Homo sapiens: one gene and its partners. The protein of the gene in region 3 interacts with the protein of the main gene of each other region in a pairwise test. Each region holds a gene or a part of one and is shown on either strand. Other genes may lie near its edges. The genes, in order: STK24, STRN, CTTNBP2NL and STK26.

Region 1 (3,461 bases), on a different chromosome or scaffold from region 3:
TCTGCCACTTCAGCAGAAGAGCAAGGGAACAGCCAGCACCCAGGCGTTCCTGAGGTACAGTGGAGACCCACTGGCCTGGGCACTCACTCAGTGTGGAGCTGGAAGTACCTTGCTGCAGTGACACTGCCCGCTCCATTGGAGCAGTTAGGAGCGAGGTGGCCTCTGGTTGCTGGGGAGAACGCTACCTCCTATTTTCATGGACATGGCAGAGAATGGCGGGACGTGTCCCATCCTGCTTAGTGGAAGCTCTCCCTTCCTTTTTTCTTTTTCTTTTTTTTTTGAGACAGGGTCTGGCTCTGTCACTCATACTGGAGTTCAGTGGTGCAGTTATCGCCCACTGTAGCTACCTCCTGGGCTCAATCGATCCTCCAGCCTTGGCCTCCCAGGAGATGGGACTACAGGCTTGCACCACCACGCCCAAATCTCCCTTTTTATATATTTGTGTATTTGCTCTCTACCGGTGCTTCTCAAATGGGTGCAATGCTGTCCCATTTGGTAAAGTCTGGAGACATTTTTAGATGTCCCAACTGAGGGGTTGCTGCGGGCATCTAGTGGGTGGCCAGGGATGCCGCTGAACATCCTGCACAATGCAGGACGGACTCCCCAAATTACCTGGCCTTGTCCCAGGCCTTTCAGGATCTGGACTGCAAGGCTGGACCCTTTGTCACAATAATAGCAAAATCCCAACTTTGATCAACCCAGCTCTCAACCCAGCTCTCGAGCTCAGTCCAGGATCAGATTTGAGAATGGCTCTCCTCTAGGTTCCTTTTTCAGGTGATGTTGTTTAGGAGGTGCTCAGCATATTGCTGAGGACCCCTCCCCTTCTGCCTCCCGGGGCGAGGAGGGCTCAGCAGGGCAAACTGCACAAGTAGTCGGCTTGGGGATGCAATTTGCAGAGGCCCAGGATCTCTATTCAAAATATGAATTGCAGGAACAGTCTTAGGCCTGACTGTTGCATTTCTTTCTTGGCTAAATGAAGTCTGCAGTCCCTGCCATTACACCATGTAGGCAGTCTCACTGGGGCTTAGCTTCATCATCCCGGACACGTTATGTCAGAGATCTCCAAGCAAGATGTCTAGGGCCTCAGCCAACACCGTGCAGGGTAAGGGCGCAGGGAAGTTGGGACCCCACTTTCTGCCATGAGAACAGAATCGCCTGCTGGTGTCGGGCAGTGGGACCCCAGGTCTAAACGCTTAGTTGGCAGGGAAGGGTGGGGCCATCTCACTCGCTGACTTGGGAGAAATCCTGATGTTTGGAAGAGGGGGTCCTCTTCTGCAGGGCCCTGTGCGTGGGAAGGGGGTGTCTACCTTTCGAACGTGTACTCGCTTTCCGCCCTGAAGTAGTAGACGTGGGACTTGAAGTGCAGCTTGAACACGTAGTCTTTCTGGATGTTCTCGGACTCAGAGGGGATGGTGAGCGAGTAGCCGAGCAGAGGCAGGCTGGCAAGGGGATGATTGTCCTGGAAAGGGGAAACAAAGCAAAGTGGCTTTTCGGGGTCAGCTTCTGCTGCTGGGCCTGGCTGCTGCCCCGCATCAGACAGGGACTTGGGAGCCCAGGCAGCTCCCTCCTCGGGCGTGGGCCTGGAAGGGACCATGGCAGCCAGTGTTTGCCTGTACGTGATGGCCCGGGTGGCAAGTCCCGCCAGGACTGAGCTGTAGATAAAGCCAACCCCCGTCCCTTGTCCAGGCAGAAGACAGGTGGCCCTTCCTAGGGCAGAAGTTGTCCTTCAGTGGATGATAATGTCAGTCTTCCCTAGAGTTGAGGGCCTCGGGTGGACAGGGCCCCCCGCCAGCATCCCTGTCATCCCCGTGACACCTGGAGCCCAAGAGGCCTGAGTCATTCCAGAGGAGGGCGGCCCCCTCACCTCATGCTGCCACCCCCAAGGTCCCAGGGCCACCTGCCCTGTGCGAGACACTTACCTGGTGTGATTTGTAGAAGAACAGGCAGAAGTTTGTGAACACCACCCACAGCTTCTGCCACCCGTTGCTGTTTTTGAATTTCCTCAGCAGGTTTCCAGACAACTGATTCTGAAAGGCAAGGAGGCCTGTGAGAAGCACAGCGGGCACCTGCCCCAGGAGGGCACAGAGAGCAGCTCTCCCTGCACCAGGGCCCTGGGCTGGGGCATGTCCGTGACTGAAGGATGTGGGCCCCACCCCCGCTCCCCCGTGTGTGGGGAGACTTGGCAGGTCCTGGGACCCTGATCTCATCACTTCCCCTTGTCACTTGCTGTGGGGCATCTTGGGGTCCCTGTGTCCCCCCAAAAGACACGTTGAGGTCCTGACTACCAGTACCTTAGAACACAGGCTTATTTGGAAATAGGCTCGTTGCAGGGTAACTAGTGAAGACGAGATCACACTGGGGTAGGGTGGGCCCTAAATCCAACGGGAGTGGTGTCCTGAGGAGAAGAGCCACCTTGAGGGGAGAGGGGTGTGCCCTGTGACACCGAGGCAGAAATGGGGGCGCAGGACCCCATGCATTGCCAGCAGGCGGAAGCTGAAGGAGGGAAAGATCCATCCCAACAAGCTCAGAGCAGCACTCGTTTTGAGGGGCCAGGCACCCTACCCAGGAAGTGGGGCCTGGGGTGCATGTGAGTGGCTCCCACATGCCCTCTAGTGGCCCAGGAGGCAGTTGCAGCCCTGCCCACCTCCAGGCTCAGGGCCGGCCCAGCCCCTGGAGCATTGTTAGGATGCGCTGCAGCCCAGCTAGGGGGCAGGGACAGGCACCTGTGTCCATGCTACCTCCAAACAACTCTGAGCAGGCCTGACGCACTGGTGGCTCATTTCGTCCCTTTGCCAAAGTGACATCACCAGCAGAGACTCAAAGCAGTTGCACCACCTTGTAAAGGCACTTAATGCCACTGAATTGTTCCCGTAAAAATCGTTAAGTTGGCCAATATTGTGGTATAGCTATTTTACCACAATAAAAAATACAGACCTCCGAGTCTGCCTCATTCCATCTCTCTGGGTGCCCCTGGCACTAAGCTTCTGTGCTGGGAGCTGGGATCAAATGGTCTGATGTCCCTGCCCTCCAGTTGCTCAGGGAGGGTCCAGTGGGAGACATGGACACTGACAGTAGGTCCGTGAGGGGCTGCAGGATGTGGGGGACCCCGCAGACGGGGAGAAAGGGCATTCCAGGCCAGGCAGGCAGCTCCAGCCATCCATCCTCCTCCCCCAGTGGCAGAAAGGAACAAGAAAATGCAAGGCTCCAGGTTCCCAGAAGGTCCTGGTGGTGGCCAGGGCTGGGCTGATGCCCATGCGGCATCTTGGGTCACGCAACATGGAGCAAGGAGGGTGGCACACTCCCCTTTCCTAGGTATTTTCATACTGACTCACATAATTTTCACACAGCAGCCAGCCCACAGTGGGGTTCATACATGTCACCCATCACAGTCTGGGCCCATTTGTTTCCAAAGCAGCTTCCTTAGCGCTCTCTAGCTTCTGCCTGGCCATTCCAATAGCCTC
Region 2 (7,038 bases), on a different chromosome or scaffold from region 3:
ATGGCCCAGAATTGAAACCTGGATGCTACACACATTAGCAAATCAAAAGTATAGCTGACATCAAGGAGATAGCAGGTGGGCAAAGGGGACTCTATCCAGATTATCTGAACTTTCAAACACCTTTCATTGACTGCATAGCAAAGGGTTTTGTTTGTTTTAAACTCTGCTTCAGTTATCAAGATTTTGGAGAAAAACTGTAGGTCTCCCTTTACCATTCAAAGAAAAGTAGATTTGAAATAAAGTTCAGGACTAAATAGGCACATCTCTTGATAAAGAAGTGCTGTCTGTCAACATTATTTCTCCCCCAAAAATTAGTAGGGCCATTCTTATTTGTCAGATTTTGAAAGTAAAATAAGAGAATTCAGTTTCCAGTTATGGTGCCCCACAACAATTCTTCTACTGAACGCAGCCAAAAATTCTGGACAAAATATTTTCACAATTTTCTTAAAAGCAACACAAAAATAGGAAGGAATTATCTGGCCAAAATAAAAGGGAAAATGGGAACCCAGTGAGGTAAAGGAACAAAAAGCCATTTTTGCCCTTAGGATATTGACCAATCACAACAAACAGCCTTGCAGGACTCAAGGAGCAAAAATCAAACACCCTACCCCTCCAGAGTGGACAGTCTAATAGGTGATATACCTCACATTTAGCTAGATCCCTAAAGGGCTTATGTCTTCAAAGCAAAGACAAAACAGAAGTATATTGGCCCTCAAATGTATTCACAACCAAAATTCACATCAGCTGGGTGGCCCAAACATCTTAAGTAATGCATTTACTTTAAAGTGATTCCAGGCCTGGCAGTGGCTCACGTCTGTAATTCCAGCACTTTGGGAGGCGGAGGCGGGCAGATCACTTGAGGCCAGGGGTTCAAGACAAGCCTGGCCAACATGGCAAAACCTCGTCTCTACTAAAAATACAAAAATTAGCCAGGCGTGGTGGTGCACACCTATAGTCCCAGCCACTCCGGAGGCTGAGGCACAAGAATCGCTGGAACCTGGAAGGCAGAGGTTGCAGTAAGCCAAGATCACACCACTGCACTCCAGCCTGGGTGACAGTAAGACCATCTCAAAAAATAAAAATAAAAAATAAAGTGGCCCCAGACTGGTAATAACTCTAGACATCTACCAGAAGGAAATGTAAAAAACAAAAAACAAACAAAAAAAAACCTTTCTGAAGAAGATACCTTTATTTGAGAGCTCAGATTAGTCTCATAGTTCTTCTTTTTGTCTTTTTTTTTTTTTTTTTTTTTTTTTTTTGAGGTGGAGTCTCTGTTGCCCAGGCTGGATTGCAGTGGTGCAATCTCGGCTCACTGCAACCTCTGCCTCCCAGGTTCAGGTGATTCTCCTGCCTCAGCCCCCCGAGTAGCTGGGATTACAGGCGCCCATCACGACGCCCAGCTAATTTTTTTTTTTTTTTTTTTTTTGAGACAGTCTCACTCTGTTGCCCAGGCTGGAGTACAGTGGCGCGATCTTGGCTCACTGCAAGCTCCGCCTCCTGGGTTCAAGTGATTCTCCTGCCTCAGCCTCCTGAGAAACTGGGATTACAAGCATGTGCCAACACACCTGGCTAATTTTTATATTTTTAGTAGAGACGGGGTTTCACCATGTTGGCCAAGCTGGTCTTGAACTCCGGACCTCAGGTGATCTGCCCGCCTCAGCCTCCCAAAGTGCTGGTATTACAAGCATGAGCCACCGTGCCTGTCTAGTCTCACAGTTTTTCAAGGACAGCAGGCGGCACACAAAGGTAAACTAAGGATACAAGGGAACACGTCGTCATGAACAAGAACCAGCAGAGACAACAGACCACACAAAGGCACCTCTAAGACCTCAGATAAAGGAAACGCAAAGACACTAACTAAAAAATAACTACTTACTATGTTTAAAGAATTAAAGATGACACTGAAAATACCTGCAGAGAACAGAACAATATTTTTTTAAGAAATGACCGAGCAGATTTGAAAAGAAACCAAAATGAACTTCAACAATAACCAAAACTAAAAATTCAGTGGATGGTTTTAACAAATCAGACTCAACTGAAGAGAAAATTAATGGAGTGGAAGATATGTCATTCACAGACTGGAAAATAAGTCAGAATAAATTATCGAGAATAAAGCATGGAGAGATAAAAAGATGGAAAATACAGAGCAGATAATGGAGAAGCCCTAAGATCATGTAATCAAAAACCCAAAAGGAGAAGAAAGGAAAATGCAATCGAGGACAAACCTAACAAGATAGCAACTGAGAAATCTGCAGAACTAATGAGAAGCCAATCCACAAATTCAAGGAGTCTAATGAAGTCCCAAACAAAATAAAAAGAAATATAGGCTGGGTGTGGTAGCTCACGCCTCTAATCCCAACACTTGGGAGGCTGAGGCGGGCGGATCACGAGGTCAGATAGAGACCATCCTAGCTGACACAGTGAAACCCCATCTCTACCAAAAATACAAAAAATTAGCAGGGCATGGTGGCGGGCGTCTGTAGTCCCAGCTACTCGGGAGGCTGAGGCAGGAGAATTGCTTGAACCCAGGAGGCGGAGGTTGCAGTGAGCCGAGATTGTGCCACTGCACTCCAGCCTGGGCGACACAGCTAGACTCCATCTCAAAAAAAGAAAAAGAAATCTATACTGTGACACATCATAATGAAACTACATAACACCAAAGACAGAGAAAATCTTAAATGCAACCAATAAAATAAGCTAGAAAGCAGTAAAACACAGTAAAATCTTTATGCCTGTTATCTAAAAAAAATAAATAAATAAGCATCAGTGTGGCTCTGCTTACCTCAGAAGGTTGTACAGTTTAAATGGTACAGTGTATCTGAAAGGGCTTTAAAGAAAACTGTAAAGAGTGCTGGCTGTAGCAGTACATATACTCAAATTGGAATGATACAGATGATTAGCCTGGCCCCTAGACAAAAAATATGAAAAAATAAAACTGTAAAGATATCTGGAGATGTAAGTGACAGCTTGTACAAAACCTATTTCATTCTTGGTCATTCAGCCTCCCTCTGAACCTCACTTTACCTAACTGAGCTGATTATTTCCAAAGTTCATTCCAGCTCAAAGATTACTCTGTCATTACATCTCAGTCAGAAGGAGGTGATTCAAATTATAATATTCTACTGCCTAAAAATAAAATGCTATCATCAGAAAGAACAATGGAAAAAGAAATTATATCCCAAATTCTATAAAAAGCCATCCATATAGGGAATACTAATAAAAGTGTTGAAATCACCAAACTTTTATAGATAATGTAAAAACAGAAAAAAACAACTAAAGCAGTGGTTCTCAATCCTTGCTGTATACTGGGGAGCTCAAAAAATACTAATGCTAGGGGTCCTCATTCCTAAGATTCTGATTTAATTGATCTGGGGTAGAGTCCAGGGAATTAGTATTCATTCCCTCTGATTATTCTAAGATTATAGCTAAGGTTGAGAAACACTGAACTGAAGAGACAAATAATAGGATACGTTTTAAAAGATTAAAGCCTCTATAACCTTTCTAAAATATAAAGATTATGAAATTATCAAGAATATGAGTAGAATGAAAAATGAACCTGCTGACAAAATTATACCATATGACAATGGAGTTCACCTGCTCCACATGTAAAGGAAGTGGCTTAAAGAGCCAAATAAAATGTAGGATTCATTTCATAATGTGGTTAGTAAATTTACACAATTTGTTACCCATGATGTAATGCAAAGTTAAGATAAACACATTCAGAAAAGTTTATATGAATTTCAAGGTAACAGATACCTACTGGGTTATTAAAAGGAAAGCAAATACACTTGAAGTATATCCTCAATGTTCTGAGGCTGACACTGAAGGCAACCATTCACTCCCATTAAATATCTCTTAGTGCCTGGGTCAGACCCAGAATATTACACTGCATGGCCTCAGGATGGCACTTGTATGCTCCAGCCTCAGAAAAGTTCATGACTGAAGATTATGCTTTTCTCTGGGGATGAGGAGATAACCGAGAGCAAAAGTTTAGCATCATGCATCTGCAACCATTTATTAAGCACTTACTTTATCTTATGTACCATGCCTCTGCTAAGTACTTTAAATTATCTTAATTTAATTCTCACAAGGTAATTTATTATCCTTAACTTACACATGAGAAAACTAAGGCTCTGAGAGATCAGAATTACGGCAAATATGTATTTTAGGCGTAAAATACAATAGTAAGTTTTAAAGCAAGAATTTTAAACCCAGGTCTCTGCCATATTGCCTTTTGTGATAATTATAAATAATAGTCACAATAATAAAGACAAACTCATTTTAAGTATTTATGTTTTCCATTAAAAAGCTCAGTAAATCTTCTCAGCTGTCCTATGAGGCTGCTCATTCTCTCTATATCCATGTATTTTTGTTTGTTTGTTTGTTTGATTGATTTGTTCTGAGACAGGGCCTCACTCTGGCACCCAGGCTAGAGTGCAGGGGCATGATCATAACGCAGTGCAGCCTTGATCTCCAGGGCTCAAGCAATCCTCCCATCTCAGCCTCACGAGTAGCTGGGACCACAGACGCATGCCAACGCACCCAGCTAACTTTGTGAATTTTTTGTAGAGATGGGGCTTCACCATGTTGCCCAGGCTGCACTTTTTTTTTTTTTTTTTTTTTTTTTTTCTGAGACAGGGTCTCCTTCTGTCGCCCAGGCTGGAGTGCAGTGGAGTGATCATGACTCACTGCAGCTTCAACCTCCCAGGCCCAAGCAATCCTCCCACCTCAGCCTCCCAAGTAGCTGGGACTAACCCGGCTAATTAAAAAAATTTTTTTTTCTGGAGATGGGGTTTTGCCATGTTGCCCAGGCTAGTCTTGAACTCCTAGACTCAAGTGATCCTCCTGCCTCAGCCTCAATCCCAAAAGTACTGGGATTACAGGATTACAGGTTTTGAGCCACTGCACCTGGCCCTCTAAAAACTGTTAAGTCATCTTTGACTCCCCTTTTTCTCAAACCCCACATTCTATCCTTTAGCACATCTTGTTGGCTCTACCTTTAAAAATGTATTCAGAATCCTGTATTTTGAATACGTATCAAATACATATTCACATATCTTATCACTACCACCTTAGTTCATCTTCTGCCTGGATTTATTAAAGTAGCCTCCTAACTAGTCCCCCTGCTGCTTCTACTTGTTTTCCCTCCAAGTCTGTTCTGAATCCTTACAAGGGGTCCCTTTTAAAGATGGTGTCACTCTTTTGCTTAAAACATTCCGACGGCTGCTCAGCTTGCTGAGGTATAAGGCCAAAGTCCTTACAATGGGCAAGACCCTGTCTGACATGACTTCTTCCATTAGTACCTGTTTGACATGACTTCTTCCATTCTCTTCCTCTACTCTAGCCACTTTTCCCTCCTTGATATTCCTTAAATATTCCAAGCGTGCTCCCTTCCCCCAGCTGTTCCTTCTGTGTAGAAAGCTCTTTCCTCACCTTAGAGATCACCTTTTCAGGTCTTAGCTCGAATGGCATCTTATCAGTGAATCCTTTCTTCCCCATTCCACCCTCTCAAATCCTCTTATTTTCTTTCCCAACATTCTATGTATTTATTTATCACTGTCTGCCTGCCTCAACAATTTAAGCTTCATAAGGGCAAGATCTGTATTTTTGCTGTTGTATCTCCGGTATCTAGAACAAGGTCTGGCATGAAGTAGATGCTTGAAAAATATTTGGGGAGTGAAAATACAAATTATTAATGCCAAAACCCAGAAAATACAAGTTATTAATGCCAAAACTCTAGCATACAGCCTCCACACCACATGCCCTAAGCTACTCAATCTTGCCACCTTTTTCATACAACTCTAACACTTACAGGTAAATATCAGGGCCTCTCCTACACCACACACCACACACATATCAAAATCTAGGGCCAACATTTTTTATTTTTTATTTACATGCCTGCTTTCTCATAAGTCAGTAATTTTCAAATACTGAGCCTTAGGTTCTCATGAACTCATAAAGTTCTTTACTCCTGCTATTCTCCCCATTCACTGCTGGCTCTTCTCTCCTTCACTATTCTTTTTTTTTTTCTTAAGATGGAGTCTCATTCTGTCGCCAGGCTGGAGTGCAGTGGCACGATCTCAGCTCACTGCAACCTCCGCCTCCCAGGTTCAAGCGATTCTCCTGCCTCAGCCTCCAGCACACACCACCATGCTCAGCTAATTTTTGTATTTTTAGCAGAGACAAGGTTTCACCATGTTGGCCAGGACGGTCTCGATATCTTGACCTCACGATCCGCCTGCCTTGGCCTCCCAAAGTGCTGGGGATTACAGGTGTGAGCCACCGCGCCCGGCCTCTCCTTCACTATTCTAAAGAAATTAGCCTTCTCCCCAAATGATAAACACTCTGATTCTTCTACAAGTTATATCGTACTAATAACTAGACTGCATGTTTCTTTGAGGTCATCTAGCACAATGCCTCACATACAGAAATTTTTCTCAAATATTATTAGTATTCCTTCTCCAATTCCTTTCACAAATGTAAAGCTCACTAATAATCTTAATCATTCTTTTTTTCCCCCCATGAACTACTGCCTAATCTCAACTGGATGTGAGGAGGGGAGCATTACCAAAAATAAAAAGAGAATTTATCAAATAAGATGAGCAAGAGTGAAATAAGTGACAAATAAATAGGTTTTTGCTATAACGTGGCCCTTTCCTTACTCCCAAGATCTGAAGGAGGGAGGAAGCAGTAAAGGCAGGCCAGGCAGATGAGAGCTTGGATTGCCTTTCACAAGTCTTCCCTGGCAACCTGAAAGAGCAGGACTGACAGGTTCTTGAAGAGGCAAATTTGACTTCATCTTAAAGGTATTTGTGTTGACTCTGGTGTTAATGGCTTAGGAAGAGATTTAAAAATTAAAAGGAGGACACCAACTGAGCCGTATTTCATCACAACGCATTCAACTATTTTACTTCCTATTGTGTTTCTAAGAAAATTCCAGTAGCAAAAGAAAAATAAAGAAGATTCAAATGTAACGATGGTAATAATTTTTTTTCCAATTACACTAATAAGGGGGGACAAAGACCAGAGATTACTGCA
Region 3 (7,038 bases):
AAACCATGCTATTGCACTCCAGCCTGGGCAACAGAGCGAGACTTCATCTCAAAAAAAAAAAAAAAGCCACTCCAACTCTAAAAAACATATTAAAATGTGGCCACAAATGGTCACTGATTAATTCATTAACGTTTTATAATAAAGGTTATGAATACTGTAAATATAAAAACCTTATAACTCAGTAACCTAAATAAAGTTCTGCTCCCACCCTAATATCCCAGTTGGGAACTAGACAGAAATTGGACTTCTGTCAGTTATAGCTTATGTTCATGTGTTCATGTGATCTTTATCAATGATCGAAACCACCCATCCCAATCTTAAAAGCTCTTCCTAAAAACCATCTATTAAAATGGGATCATTTTTGGCCAAAGAACTGTTAGGTCCAGGCTTATGGGTGCCAGAGAATGTTTCAACTTGAGTCCGTTTAAGACTTTCAAAGATCTGTTATCAAGCAAGCTAATATCTGATTTTTTTAAAAAATGCAAACTCTCTTCACAGGCTTATTAGTATGTATGGTGATTGCTAAGTTCAATTTTACGTTTTTCATTTCAGACCAGTCTTTATAATAATCTGCTTCCATAATAAGTACAAGGCCGTGACCAAAGGCAGATGTTAGGCTATGGACTTATAGTGAACTTGCATTGTTATTTTTTTTTTAATTTTTGGTGCCACAACTTGGATACAACTGAGGTTGCTGCAGGCACAACACAGAGTACTAACCACTATATGATCATAGCTGTGATGTTCTTAAGCCACAGCACCTTCCATGGTAACTTTTGTTTTCTATATTTTGGCACTGTCATTAGATCCTTATGATTATTTTTTCAATAATATTTTCAGTGAAAGTAAATTATTTGTTTCAACAAAGACATAACATTTCGATTTTTTCATTTTAACCCTTTGTGGCTGAAAAAACTCACAACAGTTAAACCTATAGAATGATGTATTACATAATCTCATACTCTAAATATACTTCTAACTTTGTCATGTCTACAACATTTTTGCCTGTAAATCTTCTTGCTTGGGGGATTTTGCAACAGCATTTGGCCAAACACAACAAAGTTCTATCCTCGGTTTTAAAAGAGGATATCCCTATTTTATGATTGAGGCATCAATGGAAACGAATTCAAGACTCCTTAAGTTAATCGCACATGAAAGCTGTAATATTTCACCATTTATCATTGTATAGATGATTTAAAGAATGCTTTAAAATAAAGCAATACCAATAAATGCAAGGTGGATTCTATTTAGTCACAGAAGCCATTTAGTGTGGCTTTGCATCAGATCTAAGATGTGCAGATGTAATATACCCGATGTGGAATATTCAGAAATAAACTATTTAATCTAAATTTTATTAGCAGTCAAATCTATTTTTCAGATTTTTTAAAATGGCCATTGATTAACCTTCCTTTATTCTCCTCTGAAGCAATCACAGCCTATGGTAGGAAGCCATTTACTAGATTTGCTTGGAATTAATGAACTGAGGCTTTCCTGCTGAACTATGTGGTTCCACTCTCTGCTTCCCCCAGACAGTTCATGAGCAATGTAATTTGCTTTCATTGTAGAGGGTATTCCTTTGGTGTTCTTATTCATGAAATTAAAGTAATAAAAGGGAAAGACGTTCATAAAGAAGTTTTTTTTTTTCTGACATGATTCCTTCTAAAACAGAAAACCACTTTAAATAAAATTTAATTAGGACCAAATATAGTATAGGTCCCCTCCATAACAATTAGATTTGAAATATACAAGACACTGAATAATGTGTTACATTATTTTCTATTGGCTTTCCCTGGTTCTATGCCAAACATGTCTTGGCTGCAATAGAGAGTGAGTGAGGAGGATTCTGGGAAGAAAAAGAACGTAATTATGGGGGGCTCTAGAAGAGTATAGCTGCAATCTGGCACTTTGCAGAAATTTTGGAATAGGAATGTAGCTCTTTTACAATTCTAACTCTATAGGTGAGGTCAACTTACAGCCTATGGGAACTTTACAACATATCCTGAAAGAAACTCAAGCCTTGCCAAAGAAGTGACAGTAAGCCATATGGTTTTGTTTAGAGATATAAGATTAAAGAACAGATTTTATGTCCAGACAAAAATCTATTTTGAAGCTAGGGAGAAAATAAAAAGATAAGCTTTTTTTTACTGGAGACAAAACAGAAAAGAAAAACAAATCATAACTATTTAGAACAAAGACCAAAACCTTTTCAACCGACTAAGCATCAATTAAGAACCAATATTAAAAGGAAGAAAATTGGTAAGTTGCCATAGTAGTTCATAAAGTCCAACAGGTGTTTATTGTTAAGCAAAAACGATACAAATAATGCAGTAAAATCCTGATACATTGGAGAACCAAAACAAATAACAACAAAAAACCCCCCAAAACTCCATAAATAAAATGATACTTCAGTTTAAAGAATGCTATGGCAGTTACTTTTCTCAAACGATTGAAACAATTTTAATCCCGGCTGCCCCCTATTTTATCTAACAATAGATTGTTTAAAGATATGTCACTTCTGGTGAAGTTATTCATTTCACCTAAACTGCACAGAGTTAAGCCTCAGAATAATTTTATCACCTACAGACCATATGCAGACTAAATACAACACTTGTGCCTGATTCTGAATGGTATCTTATATCAAAATGCTCCCTTAATTTTAGCTCTTGCTTCTCAAGCTTCTCTCTCAACTTATCAGAACTGCCTATAGTAACCAAAATTGGATTCATGAAGAAAAAAATATATTTTAGGAAAACATGTGCAAAAAGCATCTAAGCATCTGTTAACATTAAAACCAGAAGGCAGTATGTGCTGCAGAGTACATAAGAAGAGGCTTTAAAATTTAGTAATTCACAACATCCACTTAGAAGTATTATAGTAATCTTTTAAAGTAACACACCACAATGGTACAATCATTTCATTTGTTCAACAAACATTTACTGAGCATCTACATGCCTGGCACTATGCTGGGTGCTGAGGATACAGTGATTAGTAAATAGACACATAAAGCACTACAGGTTTGTACAGTTTCTAAGGCTGAAAAGCAGACAGGTTATCTCGGTAAAACTATAAAAGAGAAAACGAGGTCATCCTCTGATTTTTCCATTAGAGGCAGCTGTTACCTCCACTCCTATCCTAATTATGAAGGGATTGAGACAGATGATAAATGGGGCAAAGAAGTGAGACTAACAATAGGCAATTAGCAGTGACAATTAGAAATGGGCTAAAACTACCAAAAGAATTCTTAATCTGGGGTCCAGGGAATCCGTGGATGTTTTCATGGGATCCTTGATCTCCCAGATATTATATTTCAAATTTTGATATATGGATGTATGTACATTTATTAGGAAGTTGCTCTTATCAAGTCTCAAAGGGGTCAGCGTTCAAAAACAGCTAAGGGCCACTAAACTAAAAGAATGAAATTCTGCCGGGCGTGGTGGCTCACACCTGTAATTTCAGCACTTTGGGAGGCTAAGCGGGGGCGGATCACCAGGTCAAGAGATCAAGACCATCCTGGCCAACATGGTGAAACCCTGTCTCTACTAAAAATACAAAAATTAGCTGGGCATGGTGGTGTGCGCCTGTAGTCCCAGCTACTCAGGAGGCTGGGGCAGGAACTTGAATGCAGGAGGCAGAAGTTGCAGTGAGCCGAGATAGCGCCACTGCACTCCAGCCTGGCGACAGAGTGACACTCCGTCTCAAAAAAAAAAAAAGAATGAAGTTCAAGGTCTAGACATCAGATCGAGAAACTAAGGGAACTATTTTGAAAACAGAAAGGTTTCACCAGTGTCCCTAATAACACACAATGTAGGTGGCTACCTATGGCAAGTATCAGTATGTCCTCCATTTAATTTCAATGGAAACTGCAGAAATACCTTAGTTAAATAAATTAAAACTAATGAATGACTTTCACAATGTATGATGACCTCTTTTTTTTTTTCTTTTAACATACCTTTAAGGCTTCTATAACAAGGTCCCTTGCTTCAAGCTCTCCTTCAAGAATACTAAATAGTGTCAGGAGTTCAGGCTTGCTGAGTTTTTCCAGATTCATCTTGAAAGCCTGAAACAAAGGTAACAATCAGACAATCTCCAAAGACATAGTTAATTTGATACAATTAAAGAAAAAATAAAGTGAGAGATAAGAGCAATTATAGTATCAAATGCCTTAATAAAGGAAATAGTTGAAATTAAATAGAAATATGTTTTCTGGTGTTAATCACAAACTAAGCAACAACAGAAAGTAAAATTCACTTTAATTATTGATTTCACTACCACTCACAAAGATCAATTTTTCATCATATTTCCTCCAGACACGTTTACAAACAAATATCCTAGGAAATCTCAGAAAGAATTAGCCGCTAGGGCTGGGTGCAGTGGCTCATGCCTGTAATCCCAGCACTTTGGGAGGCTAAGGTGGGCGGACCACGAAGTCAGGAGATCGAGACCATCCCGGCCAACATGGTAAAACCCTGTCTCTACTGAAATACAAAACATTAGCCGGGCATGGTGGGGCACGCCTGTAGTCCCAGCTACTCGGGAGGCTGAGGCAGGGGAATCACTTGAACGCGGGAGGCAAAGATTGCAGTGAGCCGAGACCACGCCACTGTACTCCAGCCTGGGCGACAGAGTGAGACTCTGTCTCAAAAAAAAAAAACCAAAAAAAAAGCAAACAAGAATTAGCCACTGATTTTTCAGGTAAAATTGTGTTATAATGAATACCATTTCTCTGAAAAATTGATAGACCATCAAAAGATTTCCCAGTTTTAGATAACCAATTTCCAAAACTGTATATAAAACATTCTGATATCCCTCTTCAATTGGTTAAAATAAAATTCGGGAAAAGAGATAATGTTTGGTGGGAGTATGGGAGAAATTTTTCTTTTAAATTGTCTGCTTTCACAGACAATAGCTAACACAATATTTATATCTTGTATAGTAAAATAGACTTAATTCAACTATATGCAAACTTACTTTTAAATGAATTCTCAAAGTATAGGGTTTAAACATCTTTATTTTTTTTTGTTTTAAGACAGGGTCTTGCTCTGTCACCCAGGCTGGAGTGTAGTGGTGCAAACACGGCTCACTGCAGCCTCAACCTCCTGGGCTCAAGTAATTCTCCCGCCTCAGCCTCCCAAGTAGCTAGGATCACCGATACATGCCACCACGCCTGGTTAATTTATTTTTTATTGTTTGTAGAAATGGGGTCTCCCTGTGTTGCCCAGACTGGACTCAAACTCCTGGGCTCAAGTGATCCTCCCACCTTAGCCTTCAAAGTGCTGGGATTACAGGCATGAGCCACTGTGCCAGGCCTGTTTAAACATCTTAATTGGCTAGGCTACCAAAAACTGAATTTATCTGACTTGGTAAGTTCACATTTCTCTGAGAATCTGCATGTTCCAAAGTATGTTAAATGGCAAATTGCATGACACAAACTCAATCCTTTCTACAACACTAATTCTCACAAACCACATAAAGATACAAGTTAGACTGCTGTACAATCTTGGAAGAGCCTTCTGACCAGTGTGTATGGTAAGATATATTTTATAATTTCCAAAGTAGAACAAATATTTCTCTCTCCACTTTTTATTTTCAAATTGCCACTCTTATGGAAAGTGAATCAAAACATGACCAGTTCACACATCCTCCAGTAATTTATCACTCTTTTTAATTTTGGGGGGCACACAAAAAAAGAATTGATTCCTTCCAGAGCTACTGCTTTTAAGTGAACATGTATAAAATGCATACTTCACTTTGTTGTTAGATTGTGTTCCAGGACATGCTGTCCAAGTCTTTTAAAGCATAGTAAAACATCTTCGATGTAACCTCAGCTCTAACTGCTAATTTTCTTTTTTTGAGATGGAGTCTCACTCAGTTGCCCAGGCTGGAATGCAGTGGGGTGATTTCGGCTCACTGCAACCACCGTCTCCCAGGTTCAAGTACTTCTCCAGTCTCAGCCTCTGAGTAGCTGGGATTACAGGCAACCACCATCACGCCTGGCTAATTTTTGTATTTTAGTAGAGACGGGGTTTCACCATGTTGGCAAGGCTGGTCTTGAACTCCTGACCTCAGGTGATCCGCCCACCTCAGTCTCCCAAAGTGCTAGGATTACAGGTGTGAGCCACCACACCTGGCCTTTTTTTCTTTTTCTTTTTATTTATTTATTTTTTTGAGACAGAGTTTTGCTCTTGTTGCCCAGGCTGGAGAGCAATGGTGCAGTCTTGGCTCACTGCAACCTCCGCCTCCCGGGTTCCAGCGATTCTCCTGCCTCAGCCTCCCAAGTAGCTGGGATTACAGGCACATGCCATCATGCCCAGCTAATTTTTGTATTTTTAGTAGAGATGGGGTTTTACCATGTTGGCCAAGCTGGTCTCCAACTCCTGACCTCAGGTGATCCGCCCGCCTTGGCCTCTCAAAGTGCTGAGATTAAAGGTGTGAGCCACCACGCCCAGCCTCTATTTTCTAACAAGTGAATTTCAGCAACTAGTAAATGACGTTCACTTTAGTATCAGGGATATATCTGATAACATTTATTTTAAAAATAAAAATAAAAACTAAAACAAAACTAAACAAAAAAATTCTAACAAACCTAATAAAGCTACACTTTATTAGAGGTTATATTGGAAAGAACATGTAGCTTGGTAGTCAGATGCCACATCTGCATCTTCCTAGTTGTGTGACTGGGCAAGTTATCTGACTCCGTTTTCTAATCTGTGAAAGGGGGATGATGATATTTAACTCATAGGGCTGCTATGAAGATTAAGTTAATAAATGTAGAACATCTTACCACATTGCTGATACCTGGTTTCATTATTAGTAACTATTATCCTGTCTCATTTTTCAAAAGAATTTAAGAAAGGCACTATCAAAAACTGCAGACAGCCAAGATCGATGACCTCGGAAATAACTTCAGTTGCCCTTTTGCAATTGGGAAGTCCTTCTTGGTTCTAGTTTAAGCTTCTAAGTAAAAACCAAGTATTATTTGTTAGATTCTAATAAAATAAAAATAAGAGGTACATATACAAAGAACTAAATTATATTGTA
Region 4 (7,038 bases), on a different chromosome or scaffold from region 3:
TATGTCTCGGTGAATTTTCTTTTCTGAATGCAGATAGTCCAGACCTTTTAAAATTTCCTTTAGCATGGTAGCAATCTGGAACTCATCAAATGGACCAGCTCGAAGCTTAAGGGGAAAAACACACACACACATACACATATGTGTAAAAGTTTGGAAACATAAAATTCAAAATTGGTACCTTTGAAATGAAGAAATCACTTAGACACATGATGCCGTTCTGTTTATCAAACCAATATCTAAACAAGGAAGGAAAAATGTAAAATGTGAAGGAAGAAAGCAAAAGAGTTCAGTCAAAGGGCTGAACAGGTTTTTTAATGATTCAATTTAATGAAAGATAATACGAGCCCTTTTACCTATATACTAGGCTTCAAATTCTGAGGTTCCTGAATATTTACATCAAAGATGAAACAAATATGCTTACGTAATGACAGAACCAACTATCTGTTCTTTAGATGGAAAAAAAGAGAAATCAGCTACTTAAATTCAGGCAATTGCTGTGAAAAAGTTACTACATATTGACACGAAACTGATTTTTAGGTCAGAGAATCCATAAGATTTCCACAGCAACTATTTGATCATATCAGTCAGCATTTATGTATTTTAATAATATTGCAAAGAATAGCCTTTTTGAGACTCAAATTGTAAATTTAGCCAAGAATATAATAATTAAACTATTCAGACTATGATGGTAAAAAAAAATTAAATCATGGAGGGATAATGTTTTTCAAATAAATGTAACACATATCCCTTTATTTCCCCATCCCTGTACCAAAGCCAATAGTTCCAACTGGAATACAAGGAAAGCAATGATTAGGTTTCAGGAGAACTTGTAATGGAATATCTGAAAATCCCTCTTTAAAATAAATGGTTATTTTAAAATTCTGGTACCTCATAAAGCACAAACAGTGGACTGTACAATATTATTACAGGAAAGGGTGGGAATCTAAAGTCAGAGCAGAGGTAGAGTTCTGTTTGCTTCTGGAAGGAGGGAAGAGGTGGTGAAAATCAAACATTGCCCACTCTGCCTCACACTGGGAGGGATCCACAGCTCTTTGGCACCTTGTGTATTTCATCTTTCATGAATGCCATATTTATGCTGAATAAAGGGCACTTTCATGTTGAAATTTAACAGCTTAAAATAGAACTCATACTTTGGTCTCACCATCTAATATTAACTGTGGTCTGGGTATATAGTATACTCCAGGGATATCTGTAATTCAATAGGTCCCTTTCCTAGGTAACATTATCTACTTACTTTCAAATCTATCAACTTCCACCCCAAAGTTTCTATTCAAACAGTAGTGATTAAAATAGTTTCTAAAGTCTTCTAGAAAGGTTGAAAATGGCATACTATTTTGTTGATGGCTGGCAATGAACTTCTGAGGTACTACAAAATAACTAAAGGACAAATGTCACACTACTTAAGATCAGTAATTAGTATCATCTGATCACAGGACATTGGCAAGACCAGGGGAGGTATATCCTTGGTTATTTCAGTGATTGGGCAAGATTAATGTACGACCTACTAGCTATCATTCTGAAGGACATGTAAAAGTAACATAAATAAGCCAGTATATTACCTAATACAGAAGTTTTTAAAAATATTTAAGTAAAAACAACAAAAAGGGGATCCCAAAGATTCATGAGCTTATCTGCTATATTTTAGGTTCATGTTAAAATTCAATAAAAGTGAAATCTCAATTAACTGGGTGCTAGAGGAGGATGGGAAGAAAGACTCTGTGGCAGGGAGACTTCTCCATTTGAACTTTTCTCCGATAACTGAAGAACTTGCCATGTCTCTAACAGATAATATCTCTGTCCCAGGGCAGTGTACTTGCCTTGTGTAATTTGCCTCTGTTGTCAAGTAAGAATATGCAAGAGAGGGACCTTGACTCTTTCGAAGACTGTACATTTGTGAGCTCATGGATCTTTGTCACAATTTAACTTCCAGCCAGTCCCTAATGCAGTCTGCTATTTTATGCCCTCTCTTATGGTTAGCATATTGTTTCTTTTTTCTTGGGGCTCATGTTTTATTCTAGTCATCTTATTATATGTGTTTTTGTTGCAAGCCACCACGATTCTTTTTGGAAAGAAGTGGAGCATAATAAACTCAATAAAATGATGTGCAATATACTCAAAGTCTGCTCACATACAATAAATTGTTTTTCAAGAATGGGAGTGACTCAAGGTAGACACTGTATAATGTTAACATAAATGACAAGTTGTAATCTTATGTTATTCCATTAGTTAGGTACCAGGCACCAGTTTAATGTGAGAAACACTCTCTGCTAAACATCCCTCTTATTTCCTCTTGTTCTTAGTAGCAGAGCCTTCCTCTACACCTAATCCTGTCTTAGATTCCCCCAAATGATAGCATTTATTTGTACAGGAATATACATGAAAAAGGAATAGCACATTTTCTCATTATCTGCTCTCCCTGTAAAGTCTAGTTAAATGAGTTTTATAATTAAATCACAATATTATTGAATTTTAGAGCTAAGAACACAAAATTAGAGATTACTGATTCAATTTCTTCATTTAACATGTGAATAAATTAAGACACAAGGAGGCTAAAGGGCCGCCCAATATTTGCCAGGCAGTCAGTGTTAGCACTGGGTTTATGACCTAGGCCTTTTGATTCTTAACCAATACAGTACTAACAACATTTTTCATTCATTGAAACTGTTATTAATGGCTATTTGTTTTATTAAGTAGAGTTCAGAATAGCAGGATGAGATTAAGATCTCACAATCATTTAACTTGGAGATTTCATAAAACTGACCAAACTACTAATAGGGGACACAGATTTGGGTCATTGGTTGGGGTTAGGCCAGTGTTCACTGTTTAACATTGCTATCAGTGATCCTGTTGAACAGAGTGGCCTAGCTTTGCCAGTGCTTCCAAAATGGGGAAGAGATATGGTGAGCACCCTGAGGAACCAGATAAGACAACTGATAAATTTGGAAAGGGCTCTTAATATTCAAAAAATGGAAGGAGGATCATGAAACAATTGAGAGGCTTCTTGTAGAGCTAATGAAAAAACTATTGAATAATATGACTCTGTGACAAGACAAATAGAAATGAGATCATTTAACTTCAAGAGGAGAATGAAGCCTGACTCCATATGCATGAAGGATTATTACACAAAGAAACATCAGTGGTGTTCTCTCACTAGAGACGAGAGAAAAAAAATGAACTCAGGCTTTAGGATATAAGAATTAGATTAGACACAAGGAAAGATTACCAAATTCAGCAACTGATTAAACTGACATGAATTCCTAGTAGTAGATGAGGCTCTCCATCAAGTTTAATTACCATTTCTTTAAAATGGTTTAAATATGGTTCTGCCTAAAGGAAAGAAAATCTCTTATAGTCATTTCTGTTCATAAAATTATTTGAAGCTTTGAGTTACTGGCAGTCAAGGTTAAAGCCTTTTAAAAATATTTAATCACTTTCAGTTAGGAAAACTCATCTCCACCTAAAAAAATAAGAATTAAAATATTACTTGATTATTTTAATCAAAACACTTTCTTAGAAACAGCATACTCTATAATTTCTAAGGCAGAAACACGCAAATAAAAAAAATATAATATTAAAGATGGAAGGGAACTTAGAAATAACTTAGTGCAACTTCTTTGTTTTATAGAACACCTACGTCCAGGAAGTTTGTGTCTGGTTCACAGGCACAGAGCCAGACCTATAACCTCAAACACCCCAGGCCAGCCCAGTGGTCATTCTACTACACTAAGTTGCCTCTCATAAGTCATACTGAATTTTAAAACATAGTATCATATTAATAAAGATTTTTAAGGAAGGGAAAGAAACTCAACATTGATAGGATCACACTGAATTGGGGAACAACCAGTGTTTCTCAAAGGCATTCTGTGTGTAAATGCATCTTCATTGGGTTGAATTTTCCTGCACACTGCAGGATTTTAGCATTCTGATCCATGACCACAAAAATGGCAGGAGCACTTCTAAGTCATTGTGACAACCCAAATGCCATCACATTTCCAAATAACCTATAGAGGGGCAGAGAGAACTCTGTGAAGAACTGGATCTGTAGGCCAACCTTGTTTAGAACCCTAGTACCACTATCTTAGTCAATTCAGGTGCTATAGCAGAATACCACAGACTGGGTGGCTTAAACAATATTTCTCACAGTTCTGGAGACTGGGAAAGAAGTCCAAGATCAAGGGGCTGGCAGATTCGAGTCTGGTAAAGGCACTCTTCCTGGTTTCCAGAAGGCCTTCTTCTCACTGCACCCTCTCGTGGTGGAAAGAAAGTCAGAGAGCTCTCTGGGGCCTCTTTTGTAAGGGTGCGAATCTCATTCATGAGAACTCACCTTCATGACTTAATTAGGTCCCAAGGTCCCCACCGCCTAATACCATCACATTGGGGGTTAGGATTTCCACATATGAATTTTGGGGGGACACAAACATTCAGTTCATAAAAAACACTTTTAGTGACAGTTATCTCAATTACATATTTTTTAAAAATCTAAGAAAACTCAGTTTTTTCAGGGATAAGCTTGCAAAAGTCAAACTTTGACAGCAATGGATACACACATCCCCTTCTAATTTGGGAGACTTTATTTTATTAAGCTATTTGCATTTCTTATATAGTCTTAGAATGCCAGCAACATGTTCAAACGTACAATACATCTGTACCTACATAAGGTAGAGGTCATGAAAAAAGAATTTAATTTGAACATATTAACTAAAGCAACCACTTAGCGTGCTCAAAAGCCATTAATCTTCAATTTAAAAAATTAAGGTATGTGCATATGCACACATTTGCATCTGTGTGTAACTATTTTAAAATACTTACAAGATCCAGTGCTGAACCACCGCCCAGGTATTCCATTATTATCCATAATTTAGACCCCTGTAAAGCCATGAAACAATTTAATAATTACAAACCTGAGCCAAAATAACATACTAGCAAAAATGTTAAATCTCACATACTAAAGCACAGATTCTATTTGCATGTTCTCATTTATTTGTGGGAGCTAAAAATTAAAACAATTGAACCCTTGGAGATAGAGAATAGAAGGATGGTTACCAGATGCTGGGAAGGATAGTAGGGAGGGGGAGTTGGTGATGGTTAATGGGTACAAAAAGTAGTTAGAGAAAATGAGTAAGATCTAGTATTTGATAGCACAACAGGGTGACTATAGTCAATAATAATTTAATTATACTTTTAAAAATAAGTAGAAAAGTATTACCGGACTGTTTGTAACACAGAGAGTAAATGTACCCTGATGTGATCATTATACATTATATGCCTTTATTAAAATAGCTCATGTACCCCCATAAATATTTACACCTTCTTTGTAGCCACAAAAATTAAAAATTAAAAAAATAAAGAACAGATTCTAAAATGTAGGTTTAAAAATGGTTGCTTGGGAACCCCGAATATATTTTTTCCATAGAACATTCCAAATTAAAATTCTGAGCTTAGACTACCCGCATACCTTTTTGCCTATGATATAGCTAAACAAATAAAAGTACTGTTTGTTATTGTTGAACTATTAGTAATTTTTATAAAAAACAAAGCTTTAAATAATTATCTTGAATGATATTGGAAAGAAAAGATAGTTACATTAAAGAATGAGGAGGTAAATGAGGGCTTGTAGAAATTTTGGGTTTGAGTTTGAGGACAATGGATATTTTGCCTTATTTCAGTTGTTGGCTTTCATTTGTTTTGATGTACTTCAAACTTTTATCAGCTACGGTTAATGGGCATTTTTGGCACACACGGAACCTAGAAAGAATATTGTTCATTTTACCTCTGATGTAAATGGATAAGAAAAAGGGAGAGTGTAGCTTTAAAAATCTGTGCTTTCTCCAGGTGGAATTAACTTCCCTGTGAGCTGAACAAGAGGAAATGGGGCTCCTGGGAGGAATATATGTATACAAATTCTAAAACAGGTGTACACACACACATACCATTCAGTACCATCAGTTAAACACTGGAATAAACCATTAAACCCTTTTTATTTTAGCTATAGCTTAAATACAAGGGACACCTCTCTCTCCATACCATTTCATGAGTGGTATTCTCTGAATTTTTGTGGGACCAAAGAGCTGACTGGAAGTAGAATGGTTGGCTTTACTATACTGGCAGCAGCCAAGTAGTGACTGGACTGTGTTCCAAAAGTTGGTTTTTAAGTAAGATGTTCAGAATTTTAAAAGCAAGCATTTTCCCATAAAAATAATGTCTAAGTTCCTGGGGTAGTCCTCCCAAAAGACAATTTCACACAAATGTATTCATTCGTAGTATAGCATAAAAAGTACCAGAGAAACTCACTACTATTTATATCTTAACAATATTTCAAGTAGGAAAATATATTCAGCATGGTGCCTCAACTTGGGATGCCAGAAACACATTTCTCACCTTTACAACCCCAGCTGCGGGGTGAAGATTCTCAAGCTACTGCCAGTAGCCCTCAAACTCAAAAATCCCTGGGAGGTATTCAGGAGTCCAATTTAAAATTTCCAGGCATCTCCATGAGGATGTGACTTTATCAAGGCAGAGAATGGAACCCAGTGACATGATGATGAGTGCTTAGGGGATGGGAGAGGGTTGAAGAATCAGAGTGGAACTGACATTGTAGTGTGGGGAATGGGATGTGGCCTAGGGTTAGCGATCATGAAGGGAGGGCTCAGTTAATTAAGACAAAATGATTCTCCTTTCCATATGCTGACACTATGTAGAATTTGTAAGAGAAAGGGAGGAACAATATTCCCCTACCACTTCCTCCACTAATCTTGACATCCACTCTGTCCTGACATAGATGGCCAGCAGGCACTGTGAGCAGAAAGCTGAGAGTCTTGGTTAGCAGTGAAGTCTACATTAGGAAATAGAGGAAATAAATTCCCACAATACTGGTGAGGGAAGAGGAGTTCCAGGAAAGGTTCATATAACTTGTATTTGTGTATAGAACCTAGGCACTCGCAACCTGAGAATTGTGACTCTGATGTACCTTTATACTTTTTTCAAGAGAAGAAAAAAGTGGTTCTTACAATGGTGGAT

Evidence for each region.
Region 1: the proteins of CTTNBP2NL (region 3) and STK24 interact in binary tests that used the Homo sapiens proteins (3 or more experiments, as listed by UniProt).
Region 2: the proteins of CTTNBP2NL (region 3) and STRN interact in binary tests that used the Homo sapiens proteins (3 or more experiments, as listed by UniProt).
Region 4: the proteins of CTTNBP2NL (region 3) and STK26 interact in binary tests that used the Homo sapiens proteins (3 or more experiments, as listed by UniProt).

Annotation. Positions count from the first base shown.
Region 1 is NC_000013.11:98,444,664-98,448,124, reverse strand, and holds the end of STK24 (serine/threonine-protein kinase 24 isoform b precursor), read left to right. Parts: 3' UTR 1-1,307; coding exon of another isoform or gene 1,308-1,459; 3' UTR 1,460-1,919; coding exon of another isoform or gene 1,920-2,027; 3' UTR 2,028-2,940; downstream 2,941-3,461. Other genes in the region: FARP1 (FERM, ARHGEF and pleckstrin domain-containing protein 1), read right to left, coding at 1,308-1,459, 1,920-2,027. UniProt on the Homo sapiens protein: Serine/threonine-protein kinase that acts on both serine and threonine residues and promotes apoptosis in response to stress stimuli and caspase activation.
Region 2 is NC_000002.12:36,956,514-36,963,551, forward strand, and holds part of STRN (striatin), read right to left. Parts: intron 1-7,038. UniProt on the Homo sapiens protein: Calmodulin-binding scaffolding protein which is the center of the striatin-interacting phosphatase and kinase (STRIPAK) complexes.
Region 3 is NC_000001.11:112,413,176-112,420,213, reverse strand, and holds part of CTTNBP2NL (CTTNBP2 N-terminal-like protein), read right to left. Parts: intron 4,058-7,038; 5' UTR 4,049-4,057; coding exon 3,950-4,048; intron 1-3,949. UniProt on the Homo sapiens protein: Regulates lamellipodial actin dynamics in a CTTN-dependent manner. Associates with core striatin-interacting phosphatase and kinase (STRIPAK) complex to form CTTNBP2NL-STRIPAK complexes.
Region 4 is NC_000023.11:132,061,282-132,068,319, reverse strand, and holds part of STK26 (serine/threonine-protein kinase 26), read right to left. Parts: intron 4,888-7,038; coding exon 4,831-4,887; intron 106-4,830; coding exon 1-105. UniProt on the Homo sapiens protein: Serine/threonine-protein kinase that acts as a mediator of cell growth. Modulates apoptosis. In association with STK24 negatively regulates Golgi reorientation in polarized cell migration upon RHO activation.